6 separate regions of the Homo sapiens genome follow, and regions 1, 2, 3, 4 and 6 are each reported to be linked to region 5. The links are microRNA targets in miRTarBase. Many come from high-throughput screens and were not tested one by one. Region 5 holds a microRNA gene; each other region holds the end of a gene's coding sequence.

Region 1 (4,000 bases), not on the chromosome of region 5:
TCTATTTATGATTAAAACAGCAAAAACAGATCCTGGTTTGAGTGCAGGTACATTCTTTGGGGGAGGGCACCTCAGGAACATGCATTTATACCCTTCCTGTGACTCCGTGTAGAGGGAAGACTAACTCACAGTCCATAAGAATCCAAAAGTGAGCGGCGACTTCACTCAGCAACCCATCCTGCCTCCAAGCTGACTTGGCTATAGAGTATCTTGCGTCCTTTTGTTCTCTTCTGACTACCTGTCACTCATGTTTTAAATAATCTTCTTTTGAAATAATAAGCCTTAGCTGGCTTTGCAGGCAACTAGGCACTTCCAGCAGGACATGAGAATGTAAGATGGCCACTACCGGAACTTACAGGTGCCAAAAGAAGAAAGGGTATAAACGGAGACCACCTATCACTCATCAGAACCTAGGATCATCACATTCCTTTAAATGGAAAAGCCCACCCTACAACTTTCTTTTTAATGTTCTAAAAAGTGACACCTAGGTTTCCTCAACAGAAAGCTGTGCTTCAATCCCAAATCCCCTTGAGACCAACATGCCTTAAAGGGGGTTTGGGTTTAAAGACCAATGTATCTTTTTTTTTTTTTTTTTTTTTTTTTTTTTTTTTTTTTTTGAGACAGAGTTTCGCTCTCGTTGCCCAGGCTAGAATGCAATGGCGTGATCTCGGCTCACTGCAACCTCTGCCTACTAGGTTCAAGTGATTCTCCTTCCTCAGCCTTCCGAGTAGCTGGGATTACAGGTGCCTGCCACCATGTCCAGCTAATTTTTCTATCTTTAGTAGACATGGGGTTTCAGCATGTTAGTCAGGCTGGTCTTGAACTCCTGATCTCAGGTGATCCACCCATCTCAGCCTCCCAAAGTGCTGGGATTACAGGCGTGAGCCACTGCGCCCAGCCCCAATATGTCTTAAAGGGGGTTTGGGATTAAAGTACAGTTTTCCGCTGAGGAAACCTAAGGTCTTAAAGGGGTTTTGGGATCAAGTGTCCTGTTGAGGAAAACTAGGTGTCACCATGCATTAGTCTTCCCCGCATTACACAAAAGGCAGGTGTGTTCCCAGAAAAATTAAAGATGGTCTTACAAGAAGTACAAATGTGCCAACACCAGGACTTTGGGGACCCTGGTTCTGGCCCTGCCACTTGTTACTCTATTACTTTATTCCACATGTCATCTGTTACTTTGGAAAAACAAACCTGGGAGTAACACCTTACTGTCTGGTTCTCAAGTGGCTAAGTGGCTCTGAGCAAGTTTTAAATCCGGCATCGCAAGTACCCTTTGGAGAGGGATTTAGGGCCTGAGAAAGGCAGACTCCACCGAGTGTCTGTCCATCTGTCCGGACAGCACCATGTGGCTCAGCATGCAGGCCAGGCCGCGTGCCTGGGTTTGACTCCCATCGCCGGCCCCTGCTGTTAGTTCCGGACAGTTCCTTGGTGCCTGTGTGCTGGTTTTCTCGTCTGTAAGATGGGGTCGGACAGGCAGCTGCACATGGTAGGCGCTGTGTGTCGGCTATGAAACCACCAGCCCACCGCGTGCCCTGTTCACATGCCTTACAAATTGAGGGCTGATCTCTAAAATAGCATGATTTGTACACGTTTCTGTGACCAGCGAGCCCTTTCACACATCACTGTGACTGGTCCTCATGGTCACCCTGTGAGGGGGGCAGCATTTTTGCCATCTTACAGACGGGGAGCCCAGCTTGCTCTGAGCCATCCAGCAGTGCTGGCCAAGCCTCCGAGCTTGGCCAAATGCTGGCCCCAGAGGAGACAACCTTCTCCCGCCCCTCACCTCTGAGAACAGAGGGCGGGCCGCTGTGCTCCTCACAACCTGGACTGCCTCATCTTCCCACGGACGAGCTGTCAGGGCTGTGTTTCTCCCAAGATCCCCAGAACAACCAGGGGAAGAGTTCCTGAAGAAATGGGTGTATTTTAGCCACATGGACTCAAACTTGGAAGCAGCATTTGGCATCCCCGGAGAGCACTCAAATGGGGCTGGACCATGCTCGGGGCTCCCTGAGGCTCTGTCCCCACACTTTGGGGCATGACATGACCTGGCTCTGTGCTGCCCTAAGACATGGGTTTAGGAACATGAAATCGTGCAGAGCTGAGCTGTCAGGCCTGAGCAGACACTGCTGGGGGAGAGAGAAAGTTCACATCCCCCCACCAAGCACGGTCTCAGATTAGGTTATTACAAAGGGCGAGGGGGAGGAGGGCATCCCAGGAGTCTAACATCCAACCCGACCTATGCAGAATGACGGGTGACCACGCCCTGACCCAGCCACACACTTGAACCCTGGGACTTCAGTGAGGTAGGTGGTATCAGCCCCATTTCACAGGTGGGCAAACTGAGGCAGAATGAAATGCAATAGCTCGCTTTTAATAACAACATACAAAAGTCTGGAGAAAGCCCCAAAGTAGTCCCCTGTTCCCAGAGCCCAAAGAATAAACAGATGGGAGAACAAGACCCTCCTCTTCCTTTTCCCCCACAGAGAAGATCCCTAAACACATCACCGGAACCCCTCAAATATTCCTGGGAACTTCAAACAAAAAAACATAGCAACAAAGAGACCCAGCTTCCAGTTTATTCCCAGTTGGGTAGGGGACAGGCCTGCTCTCGGGGAGGGTACCGTGCATCCTTGCAGATGGAAACGCCTTCATGCTGGACCAGGCCGAGGGCAGGCCTGGGGCTGGGCAGCTGCTCACACGAACCAATGGGGGTGCCCATGTGAGCCTCTGAGCAACTCCTCTGCCTCAGTGAGCTGGTCTGAGAGATGGGACCAACACACGCCGTCAAAGGAAGTGAGTTCTAGGAAACCAGGGAAGATGAAAAGACACCCCCGCCCCCAGAAGACGGGGTCCCACCTAGAACCTTCCTGGGAGGATGCCAGCCCCACCCCACATCAGACACCCTTTGGCAGATATCCTGTTCTGCCTGGCTACCGAGGCCTCCCGACTACCCTCAGAATCCAAATTCTGCAGGTTCCTCCGTGCGAGGCCCAGCGTGGGATGTCCCAGGTTGGAGGTGTGCGTGTTGGCGGTGTTCTTTGGCTGGAAGCAAAAGGCCGTTCTGGCGGGATCGGGGCCGTCTGCTCAGCTGGAGGCCTTTCTGGAACTGGGCGTGGGTGAGGTATTCCCAGCCCAGGGCAAAGCCATCAAACTTCTCGTGTTCCCATCTCCTATTAGAACAAAGTGGTAAACTGGGGAGGATGAGCTGGGACTGACTCGGGTGCTGAAGTTCATCCGCACGGCATTCCAGAATCTTCCACCGGCTTTCCTCAAGAACATGTGGACAGTCCAATGCACTGAGTGCCCTGGCTGGGTGGTTCCGCCTGCTGCTGGGGGGACGTGAACATAGACCCGCCGCTCTGGCCCCGCTCTGGGCATCAGCTGCTCCTTCCGCTCTCTCTCATGGCCGCTCGGCATCTCTAGTCCTCTTTGGGTGCAGAGGGCTCTCCAGAGATGGGTGGGGGGCGATGGGCGGGGGGCACAGGGCGGAGCAGCGCCAGCAGGGGAGGGAAGAGGCACTTCAGTTTGGGCTGGTGTTCGTGGAGTCGGCCCCGGCCCCGGGAGTCGAGTGGCCTCGCCTGGCTGCGGCTCCAGCACTGGCGTGCCATCGCAGACCCCGGTGGCGGTGGACAGGTAGGCACTTGGCAGCACTCCGAGGGCTGGGCCCGGCCGGGGCTCTGCGCAGGCTCCGCACGCGGCTAGGTCATCAGGATGGGCTTCTGCCGAACTTCCAGGATGTCTAGGGCCGGCAGGAGGGAAGCAGGTGAAACAGTAACCCTCAACAGCGGTGAGTGCTATGGTCACGGCAGTGCCACTTCTGAAGGAAGCCCGCCTCAGCCACTCATGCATCTCCTCTCCAGGCCTCACAGACTGCAGAGGAGACGTGTCTCCACCATCCTCACCCTGCAGACTGGGAAATGGGCTCGCAGCAACGGCACACCCTGCAGGGCCTCAGGTGCAAGCTGGTGTGGGGGCCAGAGCCACTGCCTGTCACAGC
Region 2 (4,132 bases), not on the chromosome of region 5:
TTCTTGGACTTTGTCTTGTCCAGGGGTCTGGGGCTCCTTGTCCAAACAGTCTCAGGTGTCTGTTTGCCAGAATACCACTGGCACTTCAATAACCTGTTTCCTTGGTCTGCTTCTCTTCTAGGTGGGCTCTGTTGTGTCTGTTGGCTGGCTCCGGTCCAAGAAGGCTGTTGACTGGCGTCTCTTTCGTAACATTTTTATGGCCTGGTTTGTCACAGTCCCCATTTCTGGAGTTATCAGTGCTGCCATCATGGCAATCTTCAGATATGTCATCCTCAGAATGTGAAGCTGTTTGAGATTAAAATTTGTGTCAATGTTTGGGACCATCTTAGGTATTCCTGCTCCCCTGAAGAATGATTACAGTGTTAACAGAAGACTGACAAGAGTCTTTTTATTTGGGAGCCAGAGGAGGGAAGTGTTACTTGTGCTATAACTGCTTTTGTGCTAAATATGAATTGTCTCAAAATTAGCTGTGTAAAATAGCCCGGGTTCCACTGGCTCCTGCTGAGGTCCCCTTTCCTTCTGGGCTGTGAATTCCTGTACATATTTCTCTACTTTTTGTATCAGGCTTCAATTCCATTATGTTTTAATGTTGTCTCTGAAGATGACTTGTGATTTTTTTTTCTTTTTTTTAAACCATGAAGAGCCGTTTGACAGAGCATGCTCTGCGTTGTTGGTTTCACCAGCTTCTGCCCTCACATGCACAGGGATTTAACAACAAAAATATAACTACAACTTCCCTTGTAGTCTCTTATATAAGTAGAGTCCTTGGTACTCTGCCCTCCTGTCAGTAGTGGCAGGATCTATTGGCATATTCGGGAGCTTCTTAGAGGGATGAGGTTCTTTGAACACAGTGAAAATTTAAATTAGTAACTTTTTTGCAAGCAGTTTATTGACTGTTATTGCTAAGAAGAAGTAAGAAAGAAAAAGCCTGTTGGCAATCTTGGTTATTTCTTTAAGATTTCTGGCAGTGTGGGATGGATGAATGAAGTGGAATGTGAACTTTGGGCAAGTTAAGTGGGACAGCCTTCCATGTTCATTTGTCTACCTCTTAACTGAATAAAAAAGCCTACAGTTTTTAGAAAATTTGTTCTCATGGTTTTCTTTCATACTCGAATCACCTGGGCTCCTGATCAGTTAGCCTAATATCATTCTTAGGTGATGTGAATATCTTAACAAGTGAGAGCTACTGTCCAACTTAAAGCTCCCAACCCCTCCCTGTATGCTTCTTGTGTGCCCAGAATATGCAAGACATTACTCCATAGGGACTGTGGTGGCAACTTGGCATTTTCCCTTTTAGTAGCACAGCCTGTACACTTTCATGTTAGCACACGGGTGTTTTTTTTGTTTTGTTTTTCCAGTTTTTTCTTTTGATACTTTTTGTTTTTTTTTTTGAGACGGAGTCTCGCTGTGTCACCAGGCTGGAGTGCAGTGGTGTGATCTCGGCTCACTGCAACCTCCACCTCCTGGGTTCAAGCAATTCTCCTGCCTCAGCCTCCTGAGTAGCTGGGACTACAGGCGCCCACCACCACATCTGGCTAATTTTTAGTAGAGACAAGCTTTCAGCATGTTGGCCAGGCTGGTCTCAAACTCCTGACCTCAAGTGATCCGCCTGTGTTGGCCTCCCAAAGTGCTGGGATTATAGCCATGAGCCACTGCGTCTGGCCTACTCATGGTTTTTCACAGCCAAAGATTTACTGTTGAATGGACAGCTTTATTTTACTATTTTATGTAGATTGTTTTTAGCTTTGGTATTACGGTAAACCCTTGAACAGTGTGGAGGTTGGACACCAACCCCCATGCAGTCAAAAAACCATGTATAACTTTTGACTCCAAAAACTTGACTACCAGTAGCCTACGGTTGACCAGAAGCTTTAGCAATAACATAAACAGTTGTGAACACATATTTTACGTGTTATATGTATGTATTATATACTGTACTACGATAATGTAAGCTAGAGAAAAGGAAATAAAACCATAAGGAAGATACATTTACTATTCATTAAGTGGAAATGGATCATAAAGGTTTTCATCCTTGTCATCTTGAGTTGACTGAGGAGGAAAGGAGGAGTTGGTCTTGCTGTCTCAGGGATGGCAGAGGTGAAAGTAAGTCTGTGTATAAGTGGATTCTGCAGTTCAGACTAGTGTTCAAAGGACATCAGTACAAGGAAAGCAAAAATGAGTGGGAGGCAATGTGTAGCTAAGTTTTGTTTAAAAGTTCTCAGTATGGGATTCTTCAGTTCTGACCCATTATATTTTTGCCCCTGATCAGAAGTTAATGAAAAGTACATTTCTTGGCAAACTAGATTGATAGTTCCTGTCCTGAGGGTTTGGAACAATACTTTTGAATTTTGAGTTTATTTGGAGCGTTTCACTAGAAACCAACACTAAGAATCGAACAGGGTAAGGCAGTGCCTAGTCTAACCTGTGCCTGCAAGGTTAGGCCACTGGCTGGGTACATGCCGTTGCATCCTGCTGTCAGTTTAATGGTCTTGCAGAAGACTACATTTAATCCTCATGGCCTTTTGTGGTAGATCTTATCCTGATTTTGTACATGATGAAACTGGCGTGGAGAACATCTGTATTTGCCCAGTATTGTCAGTTAGCAGAGGGTGCCCGTTACTTGTAGCCTTTGGGGCTGGGTGAAACTAGCTTTATGACTTGTTACTTGAGGGAAGGGAGGGTAGGGGGCTGTTGTAAAGGGCGACCGAGCATTAGGCCTTGAACTGAGGGTCTGGGAGGAGACCCTCAGAGTTCTGGCACTGCCTTCCCTTCGTGCTGAATGACCTCACAAAAGCCCAGATCCTTTCAGAGCCCAGTGATTACATGGAGAAGAGGAACCTCCCTGGCACTTTCACTTGGCTCAGGACAGAACAGCTGAGAAAATACTTAGACCAAGCTTGTCCAGCTACAGACAATTTTTCCAGTGTGGCCCAGGGAAGTGAAAAGATTGAACACACCAAGGATGTGTTTCTGTAGGCAGAGCAGGTAGACCTGGGGAGAGGAGCCTCTAGAGCTAGGGAAGGGACCAGAGGAGCGGTTATATTTCTACTTTAGTTGTCTGCCATGGGGCAGGGACACATGGTGAGAACCCTGGCCCCCCCCTTTTTTTTCGGCATAGATATTGCCTTTTCTTTTTTTGAGACAGAGTTTCGCTCTTGTCACCCAGTTGGAGTGCAATGGCGCGATGTCGGCTCACTGCAATCTCTGCCTCCCAGGGTTCAAGCGATTTTCCTGCCTCAACCTCCTGAGTAGCTGGGATTACAGGCTTGCGCCACCACGCCCGACTAATTTTTGTATTTTTAGTAGAGACAGAGTTTCACCACGTTGGCCGGGCTGGTCTCAAACTCCTGACCTTAGGTGATCCACCCACCTCAGCCTCCCAAAGTGCTGGGATTACAGGCGTGAGCCACCACGGCTCAGCTGACATTGCCTTTTCTTAACTAAAAGTTTTTTGAAAATCAAGGTTGGGCAAATTGAAGAGCCAGCTGGTCCAACAAGGCTTGTTAACAAAAACAGGTCTGCCAACATTTCCCTTTCCTGAGGCAACCACTTTCAATTCTTTTGGTATTTGTCTCTTTATATCTAAATAATATACTTGTGTTACTATTTCCCTCTCGCATTTTTTGGCTGAGTGCGGGTGACACTTCTGGGACTACTGGGCCTTTGTCTTGGGTAGGAGTTCTCCACCAGGGGTGACTTTTGCTGTCCCCAGTCCCCATTTGTGACTCTCCCTTGTCCCATTTATGGTAGTAATATTTGGAGACATTTTTGGTTGTCACAATTGGGGGATGGTACTGACCAGAGATGCTGCTGTAAGCGTCCTACAGTACACAGGGCAACTCCACAACAGAAAATACCTGGGCTGAAATGTCAGTAGTGCTGAGGTTGCAGAACCCTGACATAGGGTGATCTGGTTGGGCTCTTTCCTTGGAGGAACCCCAGAAAAGCTTCAGAAGGCTAAAAGCCTAACTAATGAACGTTCTAGGACTCAGAGGGGGAAGTGGTCACCACATATTTTAACCTCACTGTTTTCAGCCTAGACAGCCCATCCTTAGGGTGGCTTCAATAGGCACCGGTTTAGTTACCGCAGTTTAGGTAAATACCAGTCCCCTGACAGCACAGCTCATATTTC
Region 3 (4,132 bases), not on the chromosome of region 5:
CTGTGCTACCAGCTGTGTTTTATTCATTAATGGGGATGGAAGGAAATGGTCAGGCACATGTTATGAGCCCAGAGCTTTCACTGGCTTCAGCGATTGGGCATCATCAATGTGATCATGATTGTAGCCGTGGACCTTTGATAATTGTGAGTTAGACTAGGAATAAGGTATCATTGGGGGTTCCTGACATGTGCTTAATCACAAATGACTTCTGCAGGCCATCAAGAATAAGTATGCAAGCAGCAAACTCCTGAAGATCAGCATGATCCCTCAGCTGAACTCAAAAGCCGTCAAAGACCTTGCCTCCCCACTGATAGGAAGGTCCTAGGCTGCCGTGGCCCCTGGGGATGTGTGCTTCATTGTGCCCTTTTTCTTATTGGTTTAGAACTCTTGATTTTGTACATAGTCCTCTGGTCTATCTCATGAAACCTCTTCTCAGACCAGTTTTCTAAACATATATTGAGGAAAAATAAAGCGATTGGTTTTTCTTAAGGTATCCCATGTGTATTTATTTGTGTATTCTGTACTTAAGAAATCAGTGAAAGCTTGCTTTGACTAATTTCTTTTTGAGCTGTTATGAATAGCATGTAAATTACTGCCATTATGGCTTGGGCAAGACCTTTTTACCATTTTCTCAAATGGAAAAAACTAGAACTTGGCCTCAGTGAACACTAAACCTATTCCTAAGCTTCTTGAATACAAATAAGTTTATTATGAAAATTTTAAATGGGAGGATAACCATGACACTTTCCTTTCTAGAAGCTAGTCAGCTGCTCTCTAATTCCTGCATAGGAACGCCTGGCCCAGAGCAACCCTTGTAATGGGTCCCTCTCTCAAATGCATTGTTGAGACCAGAGAGAGCCATCCCATGGGTCACAGCTGGAGAAAATGGGCCCGTGGCATCCTGTTCAAGGTGAAGCTTGGCATGCATTTTTTCAGGTACATTATGGGGTAAATGGCTTTGCATTTTTTTGTTTGGTTGGTTTTTAATGGGCATTGAACTTTTTTTTTTTTTAATTGAAGTTCTGGGGTACATGTGCAGAACATGCAGGTTTGTTACATAAGTATACATGTGCCATGGTGGTTTGCTGCACCCATCACCCTGTCATCTACATTAGGTATTTCTCCTAATGCTATCTCTCCCTTAGTCCCCCACCCCGTGACAGGCCCCTGGCAGGGGTTTTCCCCTCCATGTGTCCATGTATTCTCATTGTTCAACTCCCATTTATGAGTGAGAACATGAAGCGTTTGGTTTTCTGTTCTTGTGTTAGTTTGCTGAGAATGATGGTTTCCAGCTTCATCCGTGTTCCTGCAGAGGACATGAATTCATCCTTTTTTATGGTTGCATAGTATTCCATGGTGTATATGTGCCACATTTTCTTTATCCAGTCTGTCACTGATGGGCATTTGGGCTGGTTCCAAGTCCTTGCTATTGTGAACAGTGTCGCAATAAACATATGTGTGCATGTGTCTTTATAGTAGAATGATTTATAATTCTTTGGGTATATACCCAGTAATGGGATTGCTGGCTCAAATGGTATTTCTAGTTCTAGATCCTTAAGGAATCACCACACTGTCTTCCACAATGGTTGAACTAATTTACACTCGCACCAACAGTGTAAAAGTATTCCTATTTCTCCACATCCTCTCCAGCATCTGTTGTTCCCTGACATTTTAATGATCGCCATTCTAACTGGCATGAGATGGTATCTCATTGTGGTTTGGATTTGCATTTCTCTAATGACCAGTGATGATGAGCATTTTTTCATATGTTTGTTGACTGCATAAATGTCTTCTTTGGAGAAGTATCTGTTCATATCCTTTGTCTACTTTTTGATGTTTTTTTTTTTTTCTTGTAAATTTGTTTAAGTTCTTTGTGGCCTCTGGATAGTAGCCCTGTGTCAGATGGATAGATGGCAAAAATTTTCTCCCATTCTGTAGGCTGCCTGTTCACTCTGATGGTAGTTTCTTTTGCTGTGCAGAAACCCTTTAGTTTAATTCAATCCCATTTGTCAATTGTGGCTTTGTTGCCATTGCTTTTGGTGATTTAGCTATGAAGTCTTTGCCCATGTCTATGTCCTGAATGGTATTGCCTAGGTTTTCTTCTAGGGTTTTAATGGTTTTAGGTCTTACATTTAAGTCTTTAATCCATCTTGAGTTAATTTTTGTAAAAGGTATACCAGTATAAGGGATCCCGTTTCAGCTTTCTAAATATGGCTAGCCAGTTTTCCCAACACCATTTATTAAATAGGGATTCCTTTCCCCATTGCTTGTTGTTGTCAGGTTTGTCAAAGTTCAGATGGTTGTAGATGTGTGCTGATATTTCTGAGGCCTCTGTTCTGTTCCATTGGACTATATATCTGTTTTGGTACCAGTACCATGCCGTTTTGGTTACTGTAGCCTTGTAGTATAGTTTGAAGTCAGGTAGCATGTTGCCTCCAGCTTTGTTCTTTTTGCTTAGGATTGTCTTGGCTATGCGGCCTCTTTTTTGGTTCCATATGAAATTTAAAGTAGTTTTTTCCAATTGTGTGAAGAAAGTCAGTGGTAGCTTGATGCAGATAGCATTGAATCTATAAATTACTTTGGGTAGTATGGCCATTTTCATGCTATCGATTCTTCCTATCCATGAGCATGGAATGTTTTTCCATTTGTTTTTGTCCTCTGTTATTTCCTTGAGCAGTGGTTTGTAGTTCTCTTTGAAGAGGTCCTTCACATCCCTTTTAAGTTGGATTGCTAGGTATTTTGTTCTCTTTGTAGGCATTGTGAATGTGAGTTCACTCATGATTTGGCTGTGTCTGTTGTTGGTGTATAGGAATGCTAGTGATTTTTGCACATTGAGTTTGTATCCTGAGACTTTGCTGAAGTTGCTTATCAGCTTAGGGAGATTTTGGGCTGAGATACTGGGGTTTTCTAAATATAGAATCACGTCATCTGCAAACAGAGACAATTTGACTTCCTCTTTTCCTAATTGAATACCCTTTATTTCCTTCTCATGTCTGATTGGCCTGGCCAGAAGTTCCAATACTGTGTTGAATAAGAATGGTGAGAGAAGGCATCCTTGTCTTGTGCCAGTTTTCAAAGGGAATGCTTCCAGTTTCTGCTCATTCAGTATGATATTGGCTGTGGGTTTGTCATAAATAGCTCTTATTATTTTGAGATACGTTCCATCAATACCTAGTTTATTGAGAGTTTTTAGCATGAAGCAGTGTTGAATTTTGTCAAAGGCCTTTTCTGCATCAATTGAGATAATCGTGGTTTTTGTCACTGGTTCTGCTTATGTGATGGATTACGTTTATTGATTTGCGTATGTTGAACCAGCCTCGTATCCCAGGGATGAAGCCGACTTGATCACAGTGGATAAGCTTTTTGATGTGCTGCTGGATTCAGTTTGCCAGTATTGTATTGACGATTTTTGTGTCGATGTTCATCAGGGATTTTGGCCTAAAATTTTCTTTTTTTGTTGTGTCTCTGCCAGGTTTTGGCATTAGGATGATGCTGGCCTCATAAAATGAGTGAGGGAGGATTCCCTCTTTTTCTATTGTTTGGAATAGTTTCAGAAGGAATGGTACCAGCTCCTCTTTTTACCTCTGGTAGAATTTGGCTGCTAATCAGTCGGGTCCTGGACTTTTATGGTTGGTAGGCTATTAATTACTGCCTCAATTTCAGAACTTGTTATTGGTCTATTCAGGGATTCGACTTCTTCCTGGTTTAGTCTTGGGAGCGTGTGTGTGTCCAGGAATTTATCCATTTCTTCTAGATTTTCTAGTTTATTTGCGTAGAGGTGTTCATAGTATTCTCTGATGGTAGTTTACATTACTGTGGGATTGGTGGTGATATCCCCTTTATCATTTTTTATTGTGTCTATTTGATTCTTCTCTCTTTTCTTCTTTATTAGTCTGGCTAGCGGTCTTTGAAATTTTGTTGATCTTTTCAAAAAACCAGCTCCTGGATTCACTGATTTTTTTTGAAGGGTTTTTTTGTGTCTCTGTCTCCTTCAGTTCTGCTCCGATCTTAGTTATTTCTTGCCTTCTGCTAGCTTTTGAATATGCTTGCTGTTGCTTCTCTGGTTCTTTTAATTGTGATGTTAGAGTGTCGATTTTGGATCATTCCTGCTTTCACTTGTGGGCATTTAGTG
Region 4 (4,132 bases), not on the chromosome of region 5:
CCCCAGCTACTCCCTGCAGGCTCTTTATTTCACCCACCAACCCACCAGAAACCACAGGTTGCCCCTTAGGGAAAGCCACACACCAGGAGGATGGGAAGGCAAGGTCCAGGCCCCCATATCGCTGAAGATGCTATTGAAATCTCGTACTAGGTCATCAAAGCCGAAGTTATCGTGGAAACGTATCCCTCCTCCTGGGCTGAAGCTGAAGCCGAAGCCAAATTCCTCAGGGGGGTGCTGAGGACTATGGAACCTTGGGTTCCCACGGCCCCATGAGCCCCCTTCTTCTTCTTCTTCCTCATCATCATCTTCATCTCGAGTCATCCCTCCAAAAAAGGGATCTCTGTGGCTGAGAGTGGAGGCAGATTGGCCACCAATATTTCAGCACTATTTAAGCCATTAAATCAACTCATGGGTGGCAAAGTGGGACAAGAGCAAGGGGTCTGGGAAGCTAGGGAGAGGGTCGGAGGACTGGCTGCCACATCAAAACATTAATACAATGGCTGACAGTTCTTTTTTTTTTTTTTTTTTTTTAATCAAAGTCAGACCTCAGCTCGCAGCTCCCTTCATACACCTTCCCCCAGTTTTTCTTCAGTGTGCCCCAGTCCCTCCTCTCTCTCCCAAGGTCCTGCTCACTTGCTCACTGTCTTATTCCCCAGACCCTCACGGTCTTCCCCGCCCGGGTCCCTGTTGCATCACCCCAGGTTGGAGAAAGGCTTAGTTTGCTGTTTCTCCTCTTAATGACCGCCTTGGTTACTGTGGCGGGGTGAGTGTTCAATGTTGCGACTTCTGTCCTCTCTGCAGGAGTTGAAGGAGTGGGACAGAGGATGTTTTTCCAAAAATAAGACGTAGGGGTCAAGCTCCCCTCAGACGACCCCCACCCTTGTCCGAGCCGGACCTACTCTCACCTCCGAGGTCCAGGAAAGCCGAAAAAGCCCCGGAAGAGATCAAAGAGGCTCATTCCCGTACTGGGACGCGAACCTTTGAACCCCTCCAGTGGTCCATTCGCAGACGGGGGAAACCTGCGCAGCCCTGTGAGAAATTGAGCGAGGCGTCAGCCCACGCTACCGGAAAGCAAGCCCGCGATCCTGACACTGTCGTAAACGACGGTAAGCCGGACGTGAAATGGAGGCGGGACCGAAGGTCTTCCTCAAATTTGAAAGGCTTTATCTTTACCCCACCTTTCAGAGACCAGTTTCCGTGACGGGAGTGGGCGTGACGCACTTTCAGTTTCCTATGACCGCCTTCCTCCTAAATCTGTTCTTCTTTCTGCAGACCAACTCAGTACGAAAAGCGATTTCGAGGGTTTGACTCTGGATGGCACCCGGATAAAGCCGCCAGAGGGCAGCCCAGCCGCACAAATGGACCGGCTTGAGGGCGTCCCTCAACCACCCCACCCGCGGGGCTGGCCAGCCTCACAGCAGAAGCCACCTCGCTCCTTACTCGGGCGTTCTTTTTGACTGACCTGGGCGATGTCTGCTGTTAGAGGGATGAACAAAATGCTTTTCCAAGCTCCTTCTAGTATTGAATTTCCCAGAGAAGAGATCAAGACATAAGAGACGCATGGACTTAACTTCCTCCACCTCTCTAGCTACTAGGGAGTTTGTTATAACTATATAGAATTCTTTTTTCTAAGCAGGCTCTGCAACCAGCAAGACAAAGGATTTTTAAGAAAGCAAGGGAAGGGAAGCTAGTTGAGTCCTGAGAAGGAACAAATTGGGGGTTATAAAGAAATATCCCTTTGGTATCTTTTTTTTTTTTTTTTTTTTTTTTTTTTTGAGACAGAGTTTTCTCTCATGTTTCCCAGGCTGGAGTGCAGTGGCACCATGTCGGCTCACTGCAACCTTCGCCTCCCAGGTTCTCTCCTGTCTCAGCCTCCCGAGTAGCTGGGATTACAGTCATGCGCCTCCACGCCCGGCTACTTTTGTATTTTTTGTAGAAACGGGGTTTCACCATGTTGACCAGGCTGGTCTCGAACTCCTGACCTAAGGTGATCCGCCCAACCCAGCCTCCCAAAGCGCCTGTCCTCATTCCTTTTTAAAAGTGTTTTGTTCAAAACCTCTCCGAGACCTGTCTCTCCCTGTACCCCATCCCCAAGCCAGACCTTGCTCTAGATTCTTTTTCAAAGAATTGGGTATAGCTATGTCACAGAGAAGCATCCAAGAAGCCACTACTACAGTAGTCCATTCCTAGGGGGAATGGGCCCCAAGGTTTTGTTTTTTTATTTCGTTTTTGGGGTACAGGTGGTGTTTGGTTACATGGATGAGTTCTTTAGTGATTTCTGCGACTTTAGCGCACCCATCACCCGAGCAGTGTACACTGTACCCAATATGTAGTCTTTCATCCCTCACCCCACTCCAAGATTTAGTTCTGCCAGACGATACATGTTGCCTTCACTTCTTTTTAGTTTATTTGCCTGGACCCATCTAAGTCATACTTAAAACTCTATAAAGCATTTTTTTTCTTTGAAATGGTCTCAGCTCCTTCTTGATCCTCTCCATTTTCCACCCAATCTCCTCTATCCCTCTCCCTTTACTGCCTGAAATCGGCTGTAGATGTAGCAGTTTCTGGAGGAAATGAAGATTTGTGGTGGTTCTTTCCAGTCACCAGGTTGTGAAAGTCTTAGGGGTGAGGGGAAGGAAATCCCCTCAAGGACAAGATACTACTACCACATTAAGGTCAGGAGTTCTTAAAGGGCGAAGATTTCATTTTATTCCACTGCCTTCAGGGGCCTGCTAGAGGAGGCCCAGTTGGTACAGTAATACTTATTCACCAAGCTGGTCATCGACGAAATTGAGGATGTCCTAGACGGAGCAAGAATAGGCAGAGGCTGAAGGTAGAGGTTTTCTTTTTATATATACAAGACACATTAATCCATTAAATTTGAGGACACAGTACAAAAAAAAAAAAAAAACAAAAAAAAAACCACTTCAACTAATTCATCTGACAATGCTGTTCATATTCATGACGCCATTTTTTTGTTTGTTGTTGTTGTTGTTTTCCTAATAATAAAGAAGGAGACTTAGGGCTGTTGGGCTGATATATGTTTGGGGGTCCCACCTCCCCGCCTCATCCGTACACCACCAGGGTGAACAGGAGGAAGCAAAGGAAGTGCAGGGCCCATAGCAAAGTTTCATAATCTTGAATGCAAGAGGGGAGAAGGAATGGAAGGGGGAAAAAAAAGGAGAAAATACAAATCCTATAATACATACAACAGGGTGGGGATGGTATAGGAATGGGACAGACATGAAGCTGAGGCATGGGGTGGGCCGCTGGGGGTGGGGGGCAGCGGAAACCCCCCACATTCCTTTCTCTTTGATGCTGTTTCCATAGTTTCCAGGCTGAGAAGCCCTCTCAGAAGATGGGACCGGGAGAAGAGGGTCAGGGCCTCAGTTGGCCCCCCAGCTGTAGCTGTTGTAGGCAGACTTGTTGGTCTGGGGCTTCTGCGGGATGGAGCTGGTCTGGCTACGTTGCCCGCTGCCCGTCTGCAGGGGAATGGGAGGATCATGAGGAGGAAAAAGGTGTCTAGTTAGTGGTACAAATTTGTAACATCTTCAGGTGGAGATGTGCAAACTGTCTTGCTCTCCCATTCCCCTCACTACTATTAGAACCATAGAAAATTTGGTCTGCATAGCTGCTAAAGCCCCTTTCTTACAAGCAGGAAGGCATTTTTGACTTTTAAATAGGGAAAAGATGAAGAGGGCAAGATACCTTTAGAGACAAGGTAGTGAGTGAGTTCTACTCATTTTCAATTCTACATTCTCACACTACCCCCTCTCTCCCCTGCTCTTGGAGATGGGTGATCACAAGGCAATTTCATTTCCATTGATCCCCATTAATGCCTCAATTTGGAAAGCTGTCTTTGAGGAAGGAAGCCCTTATTCTAGCTCCAGCCACCTATAATGGAGCTCTCAAGAGGCCACTTGCATCGCCCCACAGATCCCCACCCCTACCACACATCACATCTGTGAGCCCATTTCAGGCAGGTATGAGAGGCAGTCTGAGGCCTCAGGCTCCAGATGCTGCCCCAAGAATCTTTTCCATTCTGGTAACCGAATGTTTTCCACAGCTGGGGAAGGGTACAAAGATAAAGAGGGTGTTGGGGAGGGGAGGAGGAGAGAGGAAGGGGAGGCCA
Region 5 (4,000 bases):
CTTCTCACTCAACAGTCACACTGCATAGTCTCTACCGCCAAGGACAGCATCAAGACAAGGAGAAAAACCTTATCTAAGTCCATGCTCTTAGTCGCCCACTTCCATTTCTGTCGGTGAACTGCCAGTGTGGGGAATCTTACCGAGATGACCCCATTCCGTCATTTGAGTAAGATCAGCCTAGGTGTCAGATCAGAGAAAATGTTTGTACTCTGAACCCCATCACCACATGTCATTTTTTCTAGGGCTCACATGTATAAAATCACTAATACAATTTTGGTTTAGAAGGAAGTTACCTACTTTTTTCTGAAACTTCTGGGACCTCAGACAGAGATCTTTTAAATGTCTGAGTAAATGTTGATAGAATTATACATTACAGTGTATCACTTGATATAAAAGGGGGAAAAACTGATAGAAATACAAAGAAATAAGACTTGAGAGTGAAAGACTTTAGTATACCCTACTCAGCAGTTAAGGAATCAGGTAGATTAAAAATAAGGGTAGTGAAGTGTTCAGTTAAAATAACAAGGTTGATCTAACAAATATCTTTATATAGAACTTTTTACCTAATACACACATTGTTTCAAACTTGATATAGGATGAAAAATAAGTGAACCTAGCCTGTGACTGAAAAGACTAGAGTGGACAAAATAAAAAATAAGCCCCATGAAGGGAAAAAATACATAGATGAAACCAAGAAATTCTTGCTAGAATGATCATGATCGTGCCCATCCCTAAGGGGTTTTTATTATCCTTTCCTTCCATATTTATTTCCCCCTCAGCCCCAAACAATTCTTGAACCTGAGTATGTATAGAGAAATTGGTCATATATTTGCACAGTGAAATGATCACCTTCCTTTGGTCACATGGCCAAAGCATTCTCCATTAGATCACTGAACTCCTAGATGGTCTGGGTGGAGGATGGTGACTATTACAGTTGACCTCTATCTTAGGTGCTTGCAAAGTCCCACATTGGTCTATCCCTTCTTTTTGCAGTGTACTGCATCTAAGTCAAATGACTCCACTGAACAGAATCTCTCAGGTAACTCTCCTTCCCTTTCTCCCTTCTTACTAATCAATTGGTTGCTTCTTTATCCTGATAGTTCCGAGTAGCTGGCCCACATAGGCTGAAGATGGACACTGGTGCTCTGTGGGATGAGGTAGTAGATTGTATAGTTTTAGGGTCATACCCCATCTTGGAGATAACTATACAGTCTACTGTCTTTCCCACGGTGGTACACTTCTTCTCCGACTGGCTCTGTTCAGGTTCTTGTTCTGGTTATTATCTACTTTGTTCTGGCATGGGTAATGAGGTCATGTGTCTTGTTCATTTCCTGACTGCAACTCTGTCCTCTGAAACAGCATGTTCATGTACATCTTTGAAGTGGCTGGTCCTTTGATGACCACCATGGTGTGGCACTTCATGAGAATAACTGATGACAGTGGTTCTCAAATGCCAGTCCTCTGTGGAAACGAACAAAATCAAGGAGCTTTAATGCCTTTTTCATAAAGCTGAATTTATTCCATTTAAAAGGCTGTTTTTGTATTTAGAGATCATATTCCTAATTCTGTGGTACCAAAATATTTTTATTAAATGATGTTGATTGGATGTTTTTTCTTACATGGCTAAACTAAAAGTTGGCAACCCCTACATTAGTCTCTACTTTTTGTTCTTTTTTTAATTAAATTTTATTGGTCCATGGAATCTAAAAGTCTAGGAACATTGTCTTGGATAGTGTGCTGTTCATGAAGGTAGCTCTCTGGGCTTAGTGGTATGACTGCCGTATGTTTCCTATTCCCTCTGATCTTCTTAACAATGGTCAGTAGCCATTTTGTGATTCTATCAGTTGGTTCATGTGATATCATATGTCTCCCCCACCCATATTTCCTCAGAACATTCTTCTGCCTCCCTACACCTGTCTCCTTTCGCACTTGAGTTGGAAAATGATTGTACCAAAGCCTGCACAATATTTTTTAAAGCAGTGAAGTAGGGTAGATGCCTTGGTACCCTTAATCTAGCAAAAGATCTTTAAAAGAGTCTGTCACCATGTAAAATGGCCTTTTGCCTGCTGCCCTTATTAGAGGATTCTGCTCATGCCAGGGTGAGGTAGTAAGTTGTATTGTTGTGGGGTAGGGATATTAGGCCCCAATTAGAAGATAACTATACAACTTACTACTTTCCCTGGTGTGTGGCATATTCACACTTAGTCTTAGCAGTGTTGCCTCCATCAGACAAAGTTGTAGATGTTCCTTGGATAATTTGGACTGGAAGAAAAGAGACATGGAAGGGGACAGATGGTGTTTAGGGTGAGGCAGATGTCATTATAAAGTGACTTGTCTTTCATTAATTGGAGCATATAATTATTTTACCTTTGGGCATGAACTCATTTTGCTATTCTTCAACTGTGTAATGATTGCATTTTATTAGTAATAGAACAGGAATGTGTGCAAGGGAATGGAAAGCATACTTTAAGAATTTTGGGCCAGGCGCAGTGGTTCATGCCTGTAATCCCAGCATTTTTGGGAGGCCGAGGCGGGTGGATCACCTGAGGTCAGGAGTTCGAGACCAACCTGGCCAACACGGCGAAACCCCGCCTCTACTCAAAATACAAAAATTAGCCAGGCTTGGTGACACTCGCCTGTGGTCCCAGCTACTCAGGAGGCTGAGGCAGGAGAATTGCTTGAACCCAGGAAGTGGAGGCTTCAGTGAGCTGAGAACACGCCACTGCACTCCAGCCTGGGCAACAGAGCAAGACTCTGTCTCAGGAAAAAAAAAAAAAAAAAAAAGATTTTGAAGGGCTGGACGCAGTGGCTCACGCCTGTAATCCCAGCACTTTGGGAGGCCGAGGTGGGTGGATTGCTAGAGCTTAGGAGTTTGAGACCAGCCTGGGCAACATGGCAAGACCCTGTCTCTACTAAATATACAAAAAATTAGTCAGGTATGGTGGCACATGCCTATAGTCTCAGCTACTTGGGAGGCTGAGGTGGGAAGATCACCTGAGCCCGGGAGGTGAAGGCTGCAGTGAGCCATGATTGTGCCACTACACTCCAGCCTGGGCAACAGTGAGACCCTGTCTCCAAAAAAAACAAATAGAGTTTTGAACGAAATTCTGACCATTTCTTGCTCCAAATAGATGAAGTGGGAGGATCAATAGGATTTTGGTAGTTAGATTTTCTGTGTACCTATAGGTCAGAGACATTTAGCCTCACCCTATATGGCCTGAAATCTTCCCCCTTCCACCTGCAGGGCACAGAAAGGATTTTATTCTTAGAATCCACAGAGTCAGAGCTCCAGTTCTTGCATTCTTGGGACAGAGATAGCACTGTGCCTTAACCTTCATCCTTAGTATACCAGACCAGAGATGTTCCTTGGAGTATTTTTGTTGTGGGGATGATCACTGGCTGGGTGGGATACTTATCAGGCCACATTTGCTGATTGGGGTGGCTCCCCTCATCATTGGCTGGTTGCCCCTTAACCACTATTATTGTTCTTTCCGAGAAAGATGGGACGCCTATGCCTGACAGCTACCCAACAACCCCATCTTCAACTGATGCAGCTACATCTGAGTCCAAGGAGACCCTTGGCACTCTGCAATCCTCACAACAGCAACCAACACTCCCAACCCCACCAGCTTTGGGAGAGGTTCCTCAGGAGCTGCAGTCTCCAGCTGGAGAAGGGGGCAGCTCTACACAGCTATTGATGCCTGTAGAGCCAGAGGAATTGGGTCCCACAAGGCCAAGTGGGGAAGCAGAAACAACTCAGATGGAGTTATCCCCAGCTCCCACTATAAGTGAGTAGAATTTCAACATTTGGGGAGGATGAAACAAGAGGGAAGAAAGGATGTCTTTGTAGCTTCTCTTTGCTCTTTTGCTTGAGAGAAATAGTAGGAGTTCAACTTCTCAAATAATAAGATCTCGTCTTGCGCATTCACTTTCTTAAGTGAAGTTGAGGTCCTGAACTGGTGATAGTTGAATGTCTAATGATATTGGTGATGATACCAAC
Region 6 (4,132 bases), not on the chromosome of region 5:
TGGCAAAGGTAGTGTTTACCTCTCCTTTCCAGGATAAGGCCTGGAGTGGTGGGCTCCTGCCTGATCCCCTCTCAGGCAGGGCAACCCCTGAGTGATCCTGGAGGTGGGGAGCCTGGAGCTGGGAACAACTGCTGTGGGGAACAACTGCTTTTCCTCCTAGGAGTATCAGTGTCTTCAAGCACCACTGGTCTACCTGATATGACTGGTTCTGTCTACAATAAGACACAGGTGAGGGACAAAGGTGGGTTGGGTGTATAGGTTTTTGAGAGGTTACAGCCCAACCTGACCTTCACCATTGTCTTCTTTGCCCTGTAGACTTTTGACAAGCAGGGATTTCATGCAGGGACGCCTCCACCTTTCAGCCTGCCCTCGGTCTTGGGCTCCACTGGGCCCCTGGCCTCGGGAGCGGCCCCTGGCTATGCACCCCCACCATTCCTACACATCTTGCCAGCCCACCAGCAGCCCCACTCACAGCTGCTGCACCACCACCTTCCGCAGGATGCACAGGTGAGTACAGTGATGGAGGCAGCCACCCTACTCTGGGCCAGGGGTTCTGCTCCAGCCTTGACAGCCTTCCCTTCTCCTCTTCCTCAGAGTGGCTCGGGTCAGCGCAGCCAGCCCAGCTCCCTGCAGCCCAAGTCTCAAGCCTCCAAACCTGCCTACGGCAACTCTCCATACTGGACAAACTAAACCCAGAAGAGAGGGGTGGGCTGGGGCAAGGCTTATCCTGGGCAGGAGAGAACACACGAGCACGTATTTGGGAGCCCAGTGCCCTTTCCTAGAATTCCCGACATGTGTCAGCCATGCCTCTGTGGGGAGTCTGCCTCCCAGACTGGCTACTGTATGTAATGTATTTATGTATGTATTTGTAAATGTGATAGAAGTCTGGGGGGGAGTTGGGGGATGGCGGCAGATGTTAGCCAGGTCTGCCCTCCCCATTCAAGCCCCTTCTCCACTGTAGCAAAATAAGCACCCCCACCCCATCTGCCTTCAGGTCTTCTTCACAGCCTGCACTGCCCAGTGGGCCACTAGGGGCAGTCTCTGGAAGGGCTGGTTCAAGGCTGTTTGGGTATAGGGGTCAGGTACCAATGAAGAATCACGACTTGTCTCACTCCTTTGGAAATTGTTTTCTTTCCTGTGTAATTACTTCATACCTCTGTTTTTGAGAAACTGTTCCGTTTGTCATCTGTCATGGTCTCCTTCCACCAAATCTTCATCTGGGAATAGCAGCGGTATCCCTCCACCCAAGTATGGCCACCTGTTTGTCTTCATATAGAACAGGGGCTTCTGGTCTGGTCATGTCCCTAGAGACTTACTAGAGACTGGCTGACCATGAAAAAAAAAAAAATAATCTGAGTTATTCAGCCAGTCAGCTCCCCTTTAAAAATCTAAGGTATCTCCAAGCAACACATCTCCATTCTAGTTGTCTTGAACCACGTGGGCAACTGTTTCAGGGGTTTTCTCTTGCCCAATCCCCACCTAATAAAGTTCTGAGAGCATGCATGGTCTCTGTGTGGTGTGACTGAAGGGCAGCTCAGGGCAGAAGCCCTGGACTTCACAGGGCTAAAGGAGATCCCACATGGTCATAGTCTTCTGACACAGGCTATAAAGGCTTGAAATGGTTTTCCTTTTTACTGGACCCTCTTGGCCCAAATCACAATGGCTGTAAGGACAGCTAAACCTCCTTACAGGGCCCAGGCCATGTTGATCAAAGTTAACCTGGCTTTTCTTATAGCTCCTTAAGAGACTTAGGGATAGGGCAGTGTCCCACAGAGCCCTGTCCACTGGATACCAGGGCAGGGTAATTTCTTTTCCAAATCTCAGTGGACTTTTACAATCTGAAGCAAAGCCAAGAACTGAGAGCAGGGTTCTAGGCCTTAAGGGAGAGTATGAACAGGTATACCTGTCTTTTGCTTGTCATCAACTGAACATAATCTTGATTGGCAGTCAAAAGCTATGGTAGAACACGTGACTAGTGAGGGTGTCATGAGGTAGGCTGGTGGATCCGGGGCTACATATCTGCTCCAGAAAAGCCCAACCAACCATTCACCTTGTGTCAGGTCAGAAGCCAGGGAGTAACCAAGGGCCATAGGAAGGAGGCAGATCTCCTGTTGGCCAACCACAACTGTGCTCCAATCCAGCAGGCAGGAAGCTCAGGGCCTAGAAGTGTTGCCCAAGGTGCTACAGCCTCTCTTTTCACTCCTAAATCGCTGCTTCAGATCAGGTTAAAGGAGGAAATAAAATGGCTAGTCAGGTGATTGATTGATTGATTGTGTCAGAACCAGCCTGGGGTCACAATCTACTTTTTCTGCTTTTGGCCTCTACAATTGAGAGCGATGGTCCTGTCATCAGATGGGACCGATACTCCTATTAACCCACAGCTTGGGACCTTACCTAGAAAAAAGGTAAGTGTCTACAGGTAAAATTAGGACTTTTATTAAATAGGGTGATCTGCCTGATCCCTGCTATTAGCAGCAGTAAGTTAGGAAAACAAATGACAGTGAAAATGTTTGCCTAAGGAAAGCAGCAGAGCACCCCTCAATCCTTCACTGACCTACTTGTATCAGCTCCCGTTTTCAGAATCAAGTTTAACAAATGGCTACGTCTATAAGGAGCTTGAAGGGACTGGGGATACACCAGGGAGGTGAGTTAGTTAGAAAGGCAGATTCCCCAGTTTTGGTTTTTGTCTAATTTTTCAGCTGAGCCCCAGCGTAATCTGCAAACTTAACAGTGATAATGAGACCACCTTTTAGTTTTCTTTAACACAAGGTAAAAAAAGAAGAGGGTCATTTCATGGGGAAGTAGCAATACAGGTATTTTATTTCACATTTTATTAGTAGACAGATGGGCAGAAAAAGACAAAATAAACCACTAAAGGGGAAGTCAACACAAAATCCGTCAGATAATCTTTTCTCATAAGTTAAACTGAAGCAAAACATCTACAATTTCAGCTAAAACTATTAAAGTCAGGTGTGTCCTGCTGGTTTCAGAATAGTTGAAAATTGCATCTGAATCCTTTTAGTTGTAAATGTAAACCTTGTTTGTTTTATCAGGATGGGAGGGGTGGAGAGTTCCTTTCCAGTGGAGAGCTGCACATTTCCCCTTCCAATCAGTTTCTTACAACATGTGCCCCAAACGTAAGGAAACCAGCAAGTAAAGAAGCAATTTGCCAGGGTAAGGGAAAGAAGGTTCTACAAAAAAGTTTGACTAATAGAAAATAACTCTGGAATGATTGATAAAAGGAGAAGGGGGGAAGACTGAAAGAATCAACAGCAGAATCATATACTTCTCCACCCAGCCTCAAAATACACAGAACTGAAGAGCATCTAGTGAGGCCTCAATTAGAACTAAAAGGAATCTAAAAATGCAGGATTTTGAGTTCATGTCACATCAAATAATAAGCAAAACTGTACGTACATGGTTCCGGATTGAGCCTGAGACCTCCACTCCCAGAAGGGGGAAAAAAAATTACAAACTCAAGTATTTTCCACAGGGATGTGTTCTCAGGGACAGAGCTCTGGAACCAGCCTCTGGGTTTCGTTCAGTCAGTCTAAAATACCAGAATGTCCACCTGCTAGCAAGAGACTTACCCAGTCTTCTGGAACTGATTGTACTCATCAGAGGCAAACCCAGCCCTTGACACTTTTAACACCCCAAAGGGCTGAAAGGTACAACCTCCACTTGGCGCTCCGGCTCCCTGAGTCAATGTCTAACAGAGGCCAATAGGGCCTGATGGAACAGCTGTGCAGCAGAGCACCTCCCGCAATGCCAGGGTGCTGGGGCTGCCCTGGGAGTGAGATGCTTTAGCAAAGGGGAATGAAAGGCTTAATTTTAGGGCTCCAAGAGAATAAGACCAAGCTACTGGCTGTAAACTTGCATGGGGGTTTGGGGGCATTTTGGGGGAGGTAAATCAGCACTGTGAGAGGCTTTGGCTCCACAAGATTTGCAGGTTAATCTGGAAGCATTACTTACAAAGTATGGGGAGTAAAAAGGTAGTTCCAACATCTATGAGAGTTTGTAATCAGGTAACTTGACAATGTATTACGAAGCTGCTCTGTTCCATGGATCTGACTAAAATCACTAGATTCTGGGTGCAAGTAGCAACCCTGGCCCTGTGGAGATCACAGATTCT

The links. The annotated mature microRNA hsa-let-7f-5p reads UGAGGUAGUAGAUUGUAUAGUU and lies in region 5 at 1,154-1,175, shown strand. An mRNA with a match to its seed (bases 2 to 7 or 8) in the 3' UTR can be bound and repressed. Matches are read on the target gene's strand: a 7mer-m8 pairs with bases 2 to 8, a 7mer-A1 pairs with bases 2 to 7 and ends in A, and an 8mer does both.
Region 1: miRTarBase lists KIAA0930 as a target of hsa-let-7f-5p. Seed matches in the 3' UTR shown: 7mer-A1 at 3,121-3,127 and 8mer at 2,303-2,310.
Region 2: the mRNA of SLC20A1 is a reported target of hsa-let-7f-5p. Seed matches in the 3' UTR shown: 7mer-m8 at 1,042-1,048.
Region 3: miRTarBase lists CCNB2 as a target of hsa-let-7f-5p. The part of its 3' UTR that is shown has no 7-base or 8-base seed match.
Region 4: miRTarBase lists UBAP2L as a target of hsa-let-7f-5p. The part of its 3' UTR that is shown has no 7-base or 8-base seed match.
Region 6: miRTarBase lists UBAP2 as a target of hsa-let-7f-5p. The part of its 3' UTR that is shown has no 7-base or 8-base seed match.

What each region holds. Positions count from the first base shown.
Region 1 is chr22:45,193,475-45,197,474 of GRCh38, forward strand. KIAA0930 reads right to left here. Exons shown (of 10, transcript NM_001009880.2): 10 at 1-3,742. The coding sequence ends at 3,702. Among named protein-coding and RNA genes, the nearest start is that of MIR1249, 5.5 kb to the right of the region's middle.
Region 2 is chr2:112,662,743-112,666,874 of GRCh38, forward strand. It overlaps SLC20A1 (solute carrier family 20 member 1), which reads left to right. Exons shown (of 11, transcript NM_005415.5): 11 at 122-1,083. The coding sequence ends at 283. Among named protein-coding and RNA genes, the nearest start is that of SLC20A1, 19 kb to the left of the region's middle.
Region 3 is chr15:59,124,553-59,128,684 of GRCh38, forward strand. CCNB2 (cyclin B2) reads left to right here. Exons shown (of 9, transcript NM_004701.4): 9 at 215-493. The coding sequence ends at 325. Among named protein-coding and RNA genes, the nearest start is that of CCNB2, 21 kb to the left of the region's middle.
Region 4 is chr1:154,269,550-154,273,681 of GRCh38, reverse strand. UBAP2L (ubiquitin associated protein 2 like) reads right to left here. Exons shown (of 27, transcript NM_014847.4): 27 at 2,835-3,482. The coding sequence ends at 3,387. HAX1 (HCLS1 associated protein X-1) reads right to left here and starts at 1,053. Exons shown (of 7, transcript NM_006118.4): 1 at 906-1,053; 2 at 84-346. The coding sequence starts at 958. RefSeq lists an enhancer at 990-1,159 and a silencer at 1,297-1,437.
Region 5 is chrX:53,554,421-53,558,420 of GRCh38, reverse strand. MIRLET7F2 (microRNA let-7f-2) reads left to right here and starts at 1,147; the gene lies at 1,147-1,229. It overlaps HUWE1 (HECT, UBA and WWE domain containing E3 ubiquitin protein ligase 1), which reads left to right. Exons shown (of 84, transcript NM_031407.7): 60 at 994-1,039; 61 at 3,501-3,788. MIR98 (microRNA 98) reads left to right here and starts at 2,080; the gene lies at 2,080-2,198.
Region 6 is chr9:33,919,062-33,923,193 of GRCh38, reverse strand. It overlaps UBAP2 (ubiquitin associated protein 2), which reads left to right. Exons shown (of 29, transcript NM_001370062.2): 26 at 1-8; 27 at 161-228; 28 at 316-507; 29 at 595-1,501. The coding sequence ends at 690. It overlaps UBE2R2 (ubiquitin conjugating enzyme E2 R2), which reads right to left. Exons shown (of 5, transcript NM_017811.4): 5 at 2,795-4,132. Among named protein-coding and RNA genes, the nearest start is that of SNORD121B, 13 kb to the left of the region's middle.